2 separate regions of the Homo sapiens genome follow, and region 2 is linked to region 1. Evidence: fine-mapped expression QTL. Tissue or cell type: esophagus mucosa. Region 1 holds a variant in brackets; the other region holds the start of a gene. All regions are shown on one strand. Distances are between the middles of the regions.

Region 1 (5,373 bases):
ATTTTTATTTTTTTTGAGACGGAGCCTTGCTCTGTCACCCAGGCTGGAGTGCAGTGGTGCGATCTCGTCTCACTGCAACCTCCACCTCCTAGCGTCAAGTGATTCTCCTGCCTCAGCCTTCCCAGTAGCTGGGATTACAGGCACGTGCCATCATGCCTGGCTAATTTTTAATAGAGACGGGGTTTCACCATGTTGGCCAGGCTGGTCTCGAACTCCTGACTTCATGATCCACCCACCTCAGCCTCCCAAAGTGCTGGGATTACAGGCGTGAGCCACCAGGTTTGGCCTATTTTTTCTTTATTTATTGCTTCTTGAATGCTCTTCCTTTATGTAAATCCAAGTTTCTGACCTATGTCGTTTTCCTTCCCTCTGAAGAACCTCCTTTAACATTTTGAGGGGCTGGACAGGGTGGCTCATGCCTATAATCCCAGCACTTTGGTAGCCTAAGGCAGGAGAATCTCTTGAGGCCAGGAGTTTGAGATCAGCCTGGGCAAGATAGTGATACTCCATCTTTAAAAAAAAATTGTTTTTTAATTAGCTGGGAGGCTGAGGCAGGAGGATCACTTGAGCCCAGCAGTGCAAGGTTATAGTGAGCTATGATGGCACCACTGCACTCCAGCCTAGGCAACAGAGTCCCTGTTTCTAAATGAAAATAAAATAAAACTTTTTTTGCAAGGCAGGTCTACTGACAACAAATTATCTCCGTTTTTGTTTGTCTGAGAAAGTCTATCTTCCTCACTTTTGAAGAATACTTTTGATGGATACAGAATTCTGTCCTTTTTTTTTTTTCCGTCAGCACTTTAAATATATCACTCTACTCTCTTAACTTGCACAGTTTCTGGAGCAAAATCTAGTGTAATTCTTATCTTTATACCAACAGGTAAGGTGAGTTTTTTCCTCCAGCTTTTTTCAAGATTTTATCTTTGTCTTTGGTTTTCTGCAGTGTGAATACGATATGCCTAGGTGGAGATTTTTGGCATTTATCCTGCTTGATGTTCTCTGGGCTTTCTCGATGTGTGGTTTGGTGTTTGTCATTAATATTAGAAAATTCTTAGCAATTATTAATTCAAATATTTCTTCTGTTCCTTTCTCTGTTTGCCTTCTGGCATTCCCATTACACATATGTTACTCCTTTTGAAATTGTCCCACAGTTTGGGGATATTTTGTTCCATCTCTGAAATTTCTTTTCTTTTTGCTTTCAGTTTGGGAAGTTTCTATTGACATATCCTCCGCCCACTGACTCTTTCCTTGACTGTGACCAGTCTACTAATGAGCCCATCAAAGGTGTTCTTTACTTCTATTATAGTGTTTTTGGTTTTTACCATTTCTTTTTTATTGTTTCTTAGAGTTTCAATCTCTTTGATTACATTACTCATCTGTTCTTGCATGTTGTCCATTTTATCCATTAGATCTGTTAACATATTAATCAGTTATTTTTATTTTATTTTGTTTTCTTCAGATGGAGTCTCGCTCTTGTCGCTTAGGCTGGAGTGCACTGGTGTGATCTCAGCTCACTGCAACCTCCACCTCCCGGGTTCAAGCGATTCTCTTGCCTTAGCCTTCCAAGTAGCTGGAATTACAGACATGCACCACCACGCCCAGCTAATTTTTGTATTTTTAGTACAGATGGGGTTTCACCACCTTGGCCAGTCTGGTCTCCAACTCCTGACCTCACAGTGAAAATTTGGTAGGGCTCCTGGAGGTAAAACTGATGAAAGTGCGCCCCCACCAAGGCAGTCATTCTCACCCAGACCAGAAGCTTTCAGAATAGGTGGCCTTTGGACCTAGAGGGAGAAGAGATTTCTTTCCTTAGCCATTGCAAGGTTTGTGGATGAGACCCCAATAACAAAAGACAGATTAACAAGATAAACGCATCCAATTTTATTTAATGTAAGTTTTAGGGAACACAAGAGCCTTCAGAAACGAAGACCCAAATATACAGGGAAAACTGTATTTTTATGGAGAGTTGTGCAGAAGTATGATCGGAGGACAAAAGGGTATGATGTCATGGTAATCAACCAGGGGGAAGTAGCAAGGCCTGTTTGTTCCGATTCCTCTTGGCCTCTCTGTGTGACTTTCCTTTCCTTGGGTATAGGGCAGGACACCTGTCACAGGAGGTCTTCAAGGGAGA[C/T]GGGAGGGAGAAGGCCAGAGAGTGACCTTCCTGCTTCTGCAGTTTTCTTAGTTTCCTTCAGCTTAAAATACTCAACATGCCAAGGTGCCATACTTTGGGGTGTCCTGTTCTGAGCCCCGCAGAGCTCACAAGCTCTCGGAATCATCTTGGACGTCTGATTTCTCACGGCCGGGGACATTTTCCTGGGCCTGAGGCCGTTGGAACCAGAACTGTCCATTTTCCCGCCCCGGCAGGTGACAGGCTGGGAAGGAGATCCTCAAGCAAGCGGGCTCTCAAAGCCGAGGGGACCCCAGGCAGGCGCGGAGCTCAGCGAAGCCAGAAGGAGCGCGCCGGGGGCAGCCCAAGCCCGGGGTCTCCCCGGAGGAAGCAAACAGGGCGCAGGAGACACAGAGAAGAGCTGGGGGAGCAGGAGCGGGGCGAGGCAGAGAGGACCTGCGAGGGCAGGAGAAAGCGCGACGAGAGGGCCTCCTTCCAGGAGCGGACAGCAGCCCCAAAGAGGGAAAAGGAGATTCCGAGGAGGGAGGAGAAGTCGAAGCGGCAGAAGAAACCCAGGTGTGTTGTGGCTCCGATTCTGGGCATTCGCTCCGCGCGCTCCCGCTCCTTCGCGGCCCTTCCCCTTCCCCCGTGAGGGACTGATGCCCCCCTCCCCGGGGAGAGGCAGCCCGTGCCCTCGCTCTGGCTTCCGTGCCTCCCAGCCCTTACCACTGCCCCACTCTGCGGTGGGTTCTTCATCCCAGAACCGGGATGAAGATCGCGGGTCCGCGCGGGGGAGTGGCCGCGGGCTCTCCACTCCAGCGCCTCGTGGCACCCGGTGAGGCGGGGCGCGGGTGGAGAGGTGGCGGGGCGCGGGTGGAGAGGTGACAGGGCAGCGGGTGGGACACGATCCCGCGTCCCCTGAACTCCAGCTGGTGACTCACCCCGGCTCTCGAAGAGGAGGAGCTGAGCGACATGAACAAAATCGGACTCAGGAACCATCTGAGGGCTTAAGCACACCTCGTTCCGGCTTCCGGATCTGGGCCAGTTTCCTCTGCTGGAAATGTGGCACTGGTCCAGGAGACCTTCAAGGATGCTACCAGCTCTGAAATTCTGGAGCTTGGAGGTTTTATTTGTTTTGCCTCCTTTGTTCCATTACCATTGGCACCAACTAGCACGTGTGGGTTAGTGGACAGGGCCAGCTTATGGCATCAGAAAGTGAAGATTTGGGGTTCATGTTTTTGTTATCAATTTTAATAGGTGTCTCTCTCTTTGCCTCCCTTTTTCAGTCATTGAGGATAACAGATGCCTTATTCGTTGCTCATATTGTTTTAAGAATTCTTTGTGATAGAATAGGAATTCTTTTGCAACAGTTGGGAATATTAGGATTATGGTGAAGAGTTGATGTTCTTTCCCGGTGGTTTGTAGCAAATCCTTTTTGCCCACAGCCTCAGTTGGGTGCTCCATCTTCCTCTCCACCTTTACAGAGAGGCTTTTAAACAAGGGCACTGATTTTTTTCCTGTCGCCATGCCAACCATCCTGGCTTGGTTACAGCCTTTGTCTACTGTCTGGTTGCTCCCAGACATGAACTAAAGAGGTAAAGGGTGCATCGTGCCCTTGGCCATTTAAAAATAACGTGAATGCACCGTTGATGGGCCCTGGGTGCCCTGAACTTTAGAGGGAGCCTGTACCATCCCAATGGGCCACAGACTCATTTATGTCATTTTCAGCTGAGGGCCATGCCAAGGCATTAGAGAGATGAAAACATTCAGTTCCCGTTGCCTAGATACTGACAGTGTGGCAGAGGAGATAACACATAGGCATTGGTAATCCTAAGACAAGGCAGAAAGCAATATGCATGCAAGACAGGACTTGATGGAGCGCTGAATTCCCCGGGTGCTGGGCCATCAGGGTTCCTCCATGGAGAAGGTGAACATCCCAGTGAGGCTTTGAATAACAGGTGGAATCTAAATAAGCAATGACTGAATGTCCAACACCCCAAACTGTGGGAACACCCTACGCAGAGACTCAAAGGCAGATATCATCAATTGGGTGTGCATGAAGTATGGCAAAAAAAAAAAAAATATCTCTGTGTTCTAGGCTTTTCAACCTTCAAGGGCATCCTAAAACTTCTTCTTTGCTCCCCAGGAGTTAATCAGAAGCTAAAACACCCAGAGGCTGCTGCAAACCTGTCTCTAAAACCTGCAGTAACCCAAGCCCACACCCTAATACTACCATTTATGAAACACACTCAGGCTGCCCAGCCATAACCCTTCCTTAGTCCTTTCCTTTACCTACCCGATTGGGCGCTGTCTCACTCAGCTGAGAGTCACTATTTTTCATCACTAAAGGAGTCAGAGGCCGGGCGTGGTGGCTCACGCCTGTAATCCCAGCACTTTGGGAGGCCGAGGTGGGTGGATCGCGAGGTCAGGAGATCGAGATCATCCTGGCTAACATGGTGAAACCCCATTTCTACTAAAAATACAAAAAATTAGCCAGGCGTGGTGGCGGGTGCCTGTAGTGCCAGCTACTCCGGAGGCTAAGGTGGGAGAATGGCGTGAACCCAGGAGGTGGAGCTTGCAGTGAGCCGAGATTGCGCCACTGCACTCCAGCCTGGGCCACAGAGCAAGACTCCATCTCAAAAAAAAAAAAAAAAATGGAGTCAGAATAGGCTGGAGGCTGTAGGGAGCACACACAGACACTTGGATTTTGTGACAACTGAGCACATAGTATTATCTGGGAGATGGGGAGCTCCCCAGCTGGAAATTCTCCACAGCCCTGCTGTCCAATATGACAGCCACTAGCTGCATGTGGCTGCTGAGCACTTGAAATGTGGCCAGTGTGACTGAGCAACTGAATTCCTCATTTAATTGTAACTCAGTGTTAATGCCACTGAGTTGACATAAGAGTTGGTGAATTTACTTAATTTGGACAGATGTAGTTTTGAAACTGATTTGATTTGACTTTGAAGCCAAAACAGTTCTTCTACAAAAAGACAAACTACTGTTGTCAATGCAGATACAAATATCAAAGGAAAACCATATTCTGCTACTTGATTCAGTTCTTGGGAATCTTTTAAGTATGTCTAAAACAATTTGGGCAAATCTACTTTTTTCACCTATAAACTTATGAAATATAAATACAAATTAAATATATCTGATGAAAGTTTATCATCTGAATAGCCTTGCAGTATGAGTACAAAATGAACAGTGACCTTTGAAGACAGTATTTTTTAAAGGACTGAAATATCTCTAATAATTTTATATTG
Region 2 (5,373 bases), 50 kb before region 1:
TCAGGGATCTAGAACTAGAAATACCATTTGACCCAGCCATCCCATTACTGGGTATATACCCAAAGGATTATAAATCATGCTGCTATAAAGACACATGCACACGTATGTTTATTGCGGCACTATTCACAATAGCAAAGACTTGGAACCAACCCAAATGTCCAACAATGATAGACTGGATTAAGAAAATGTGGCACATGTACACCACGGAATACTATGCAGCCATAAAAAATGATGAGTTCATGTCCTTTGTAGGGACATGGATGAAGCTGGAAAATATCATTCTCAGCAAACTATCACAAGGACAAAAAACCAAACACCACATGTTCTCACTCATAGGTGGGAATTGAACAATGAGAACACATGGACACAGGAAGGGGAACATCACACCCCGGGGCCTGTTGTGGGGTGAGGGGAGCGGGGAGGGATAGCATTTGGAGATATACCTAATGTTAAATGATGAGTTACTGGGTGCAGCACACCAACATGGAACATGTATACATACGTAACTAACCTGCACGTTGCGCACATGTACCCTAGAACTTAAAGTATAATAAAAAAAAAAAGATAAAAAAATAAAATGAGTGGGCCAGCCGGGAGCGGTGGCTCATGCCTGTAATCCCAGCACTTTGGGAGGCCCGGGGCAGGCAGATCACCTGAGGTCAGGAGTTCGAGACCAGCCTGACCAACATGGAGAAACCCCGTGTCTACTAAAAATACAAAATTAGCTGGGCATGGTGGCGCACACCTGTAATCCCAGCTACTCGGGATGCTGAGACAGAAGAATCGCTTGAACCCGGGAGGTGGAGGTTGCGGTGAGCCGAGATCGCGCCACTGCACTCCAGCCTGGGCAACAAGAGTGAAACTGTGTCTCAAAAAAAAAAAAAAAAAAAAGAGCAGGCCTCCTTTTCCTTTAACAAAATAAGCCTCAGATCTGTCAGAGAAGAGAATAATGTAAACAGCTTCTAGGGGACAGAACCATGTGGGGACATCAGAATACAGTCTGCCCTGACAAGCTGCTATTACATATTTATCCCTTTAATGCCTATGGGCCTCAAATTATAATACTATTAGTAATAGTTAACACTTACTAAACTCTTACTGTATACCAGAGGCAATTCCAGACACCATGCAAGTTTTACCTCCCCAAAGCTCCATGAGTTCTACACCTTCCTCAAATTGACAATGCTAGAAAGTGCCTAGATTTGAAGTCTAGCTGTGGAGCGCCACACGCTTAGCCAGCTGGGCCAGTAATGATGTCAGCAATGGCCAATCCCTGTGGGGTCTGACAATTCTCAAAGTGTATCCACACATAGGGTTGAGGGGATGTAGATGAAACAAAATTGGCCATGAGTTAACAAATGTGGAATCTGGTGACAGGTCCGTGGCAGTTCACTGAATAGCTCTACTAGGTAGGTTTAAAATTTGTCCCTACGAAAAAATTAAAAATAAAATTAAACGCCTGATATCCAGAACTCACCATATGCCGGAAGTGATTTGGATTGTTAACTAGAAGCCGTCAGAGTTCCCCACCAGACCTAACCCTTCACAGCCCCAAACCAGATGTTTGGCCCTAACATGTGAGGGAAAAGCAGTCCAGGAAAGGAGTCAGCCAGACGGGCCACCCAGATGACGACCAAACCCAGGAACTTTGCCACAAAGCACAGGGGGCACCTCCCACATGACACACCTTGAGACAACAGGTCCCAGAGAAAAGACCTGCCCCCATTCAAAAGAGCTGCCTAGATGCCTGTCAGAGTGATACAGCCCACCACTATCAGAGGACGAAACCTCCCTCACCTCCCTAAAAACCCCAGGGACTCCTGACCCAAGACACTCGCCCAGGCCCTCTCAGGATATTTTGACCACGTCAAGCTCACCTCCACTTCCAACCCCCCAACCCCTAATAAACCAAGGTCCATCAAGCATCAAGGCCTGAGACGGCCTCCCCCTAACCACCCCGGTCACCACTCGGGACATATCCAGCCCCACCCAAAAAACAGAAAAACTCGGTGATGCAGGACTCAAGACGCTCCCCAGCCAAAAACCACCCAGGGATGTGCGGACCTAGCCACGTCCCCACCCCAGCCGCGGGGATGTTGGTCCATTTGGCCCTGGCAGAACTCAACCCCACAGCCCAAATAAACCCCAGGACGCACGACTGGGGCCGCCCTCCGTATTCGAAAACTGGTTGACCCAGAATAATCCCGCCTGGTTCAAGACAGGCATTAGAGTTCTAGGTCACTCTCGTCCCCCCGGGGGGAAAAAAGGTCCGCGGAGGTCCGGGCAAGCAGGGGCTCACCCCATCGCCTCGCCCCAATGAGCACCGCGAGCTGCGCCCTCTCCTCCAAAAACCAAATATCTCCAACCCGCACTCCCCATTGGCCACACTCTACCCCGCGTCCTAACCTACGCTCGGCCTTTCCCGACCCTCCTTTCCCCACGAGAGAGGGCATCCTGGGGCCAAGGAGCCGCGGAGGCCGCGCTCACCAGAGCCAGCGTGCCCGGGATCTCGGCCACCGACCGACGCCAGAACTACAATTCCCAACATCCTCGCAGGCTTCGGCTCCCATTGGCCGCCACAGAGCCACTTCTGGGCCGTGCAACGGTTACTTTTCCAGGACAGTGACCACTGCAGTGACAGCCTCTCCGTCTCTTCTTAAAATACCCATGTTGAAAACAGGTTCTGGCTCCCGAGTGAAGTCTCTGTCCCCTTGGCCCATTCTGCAAAAAAAAGACTACACTCCCCACAAGCCTCTGCGGCAGCTTCCGCAGGCGCTTCCGGAAGCTGGGGTCAACGAGAGAAGTCATTTCCGATTGGCGAATCTAGCGGGAGCAATGCGCTGTCTGTCAGGCGTGTGTTGGGTACAGAGTTTACTGCACCGGACCACCTGAATTCCCTGGGCTGAGGCTCCATAGCACGCGAACTACCTTGCGTGAGCACTATGTAGATTCGACTTCGTGTTGCCTGTGACACACAGGCAGGGCAAAGCCGCCTCCCAGCGTCTCAGTTGAACCCTTACCCTCAACACCAGTGCACTCCTGTGGGTGGCCTGTAGTCACCTTTCTTGTCGAAGTCCTCAAAGTTAGGGACAGACTCTCATCCAGTTTCTGGAGGGTGGAAGCTTCACTCAGGCTGGAGTCTGGCTCTCTGGCCTCTTATCTAAGATCCCGGTTCAGATCTGGGCTACTAGAGCCGGGCGTGGTGGCGCGCGCCTGGGATTCCTGTAACCCCGAGGGAGGCTGAGGCTGAGGCTGGAGGATGGCTTGAGCCCAGGAGTTAAATGTATATATTTTAAAACTAATAATATTTTTAAAACTGGGCTACGCTGGTACCTTCTGCAACACGGCAATTAGGGGTTTGCAGATCAGACCTTCAGCTCATAGGAGGCGCGTTTAAATCTTAATGGCAAATACAAATTGAATTAAATTTTACTTGTTACTGAAGGGGAAATAAACCTGACCTCACGCCCTTGGAGTATTTCCATGAGAAATCTATGTATAAGTGCTCCTTTGATATGTACCTGATACTTTTGAAAGGCTGAATAAGCACCTGCCAACTTTACAAAAGAGGAATGTTTCCCCCAAAGGCCTGATGAGCCATCTCTTTGAAATGTAAACAGTGAAGAAGATAGTGCCCTTATCTCCCTGTCACCTTGGGAGTTTAGCTTAGGTGCCTAGCTCCAAACTCGTAACTGCCCGCTTGTCACAGATAAAAGTTTTATTTTTTCTTTTTGATAAAGGCAATTAACTAGTGTAGATGGCTACTCCAATTACCAGGTGAATTTAGAATGAATTATGAAAAATTGTATAGCAAACAATGTCAAATCCTCTTACAAGGGGGCAAATTACCATTAATTTTGAGGACATGTTTGTAATAGATTGTATCTGCCCAACTAGATAAAAAGTAAGATCTCTTTCTGTCTGGCATCTGATTAGCAGATTGTCTACAATGTGCTTCCCAGTCCAGTTCAATATTATTTGGTAATAAAACTGTTCTCCTTCTTTTCTACGTTTGTGAAGGGGATTTTCTGGGTTAGCAGGAGATTTTGTTTTTATTTTCTCCAACACCTCCTTCCATCTTCTTATTTCTTTTCACCTTCCCAATATCAGCCTTCTGAGGCTTCTCTGTTCTCCAGTACTCAGGAGATAGAGAACATGGCCCCAAGGCCGTTGTGAGCCAGGAGACAGACAAACATTTCTTGATATTCTGTCCTGCCTTTCACAGAAAGGACCAATTCCCTTCTCTTGTCTTGGAGGCTGCCGTGTTAGTACTGGGCAGAATCTGTTACTGAAACACCAGGGGTTGGGTCTAGGTCCTGCTGGTTGCCAGTCAGAAAACCAATCACTGAGACGAGTATTGCAAGGGAAGAAGGCCTTAATTGAGTGCTGCAGCCAAGAAGATGGGAGATCAGTCTCACATCCATCTCCCTGACTGACCAAAATCAGGGGTTTGTATAGCAGGGAAGAAATGTAACTATGTGTGGGAAAACAGAAATTAGGGAGAGGTAAGTTGGAACAGGAAGGAGGTGATTGGTTAGGCAATATGACTGATGAGGAGTGTGGGTTCTCATTGTCCACATGCAATGATTTGGTAAGTTGCAGCTCCTTGATACTATCTGGGAGGCCTGATGTTTGGTTTTCCTGAGAAAGGAACTCAGGACAAATGTGACCTTCTCAAGTTTTAAGACTGGGGGAATCCATTTCTTTTCTTTCCTTTTCCTTTCTTTTTTTTTTTTTGGACAGGGACTTGCTCTGTCATTCAGGCTAGAGTGCGGTGGCATGATCACCGCTCATGTAGCCTCAACCTCCTGGGCTCAAGTGAGTCTTCCACCTCAGCCCCGAGTAGTTGGGACTACAGGCACATGCCACCACACCTGGCAATATTTTTTAATTTTTTGTAGAGATGGGGTTTCACCATGTTGCCCAGGCTGATCTTAAACTCCTAGGCTCAGGTGATTCTCCCACCTCAGCTTCCCAAAGTGCTGGAATTACAGGCATGAGCCACCGCACCTGGCCTGGAAGGACCAATTTCTGTTTATTCAAAGAAACCATAAACATCAATTCTGTGGGACAATTGGGACAGTTTCAAATCCAGCCCTTGATCTGGAGCCCTCCCTCAGCATCCCTCTGTGCTCCATGTGACTGTTATTCATCACGTGAATAAAATCTATGGAACAGTTGAATTAAAAATACAAGGACAGAGGTGACATCAATGGGAAATCTCTGTCCCTTCTGTTTAATTTTGCTATGGACATAAAATTCATCTAAAAATGAAGTCTATTCATAAAAGAGAAAATTAGGAAAATTTTGCAATGTTTTACTTGCCCCTCGCCCTGCTTTCCTCCCTGGCTCTTCAGCAGTCTCAAAGCCTAC

What was found. PIP is the estimated chance that this variant, and not a neighbour inherited with it, causes the effect.
Region 2: it holds the start of ZNF343, and the variant in region 1 is the best candidate, but not a certain one, in a credible set for the expression of ZNF343 in esophagus mucosa (GTEx, PIP 0.68).

What each region holds. Positions count from the first base shown.
Region 1 is chr20:2,556,092-2,561,464 of GRCh38, forward strand. It overlaps TMC2 (transmembrane channel like 2), which reads left to right. Exons shown (of 20, transcript NM_080751.3): 3 at 2,365-2,683. Among named protein-coding and RNA genes, the nearest start is that of TMC2, 22 kb to the left of the region's middle. RefSeq lists an enhancer at 1,948-2,658. The variant C/T (reference allele first, on the strand shown) is at 2,132.
Region 2 is chr20:2,506,394-2,511,766 of GRCh38, forward strand. It overlaps ZNF343 (zinc finger protein 343), which reads right to left and starts at 2,522. Exons shown (of 6, transcript NM_024325.6): 1 at 2,488-2,522. RefSeq lists enhancers at 1,787-1,846, 2,497-2,806, 3,348-3,943.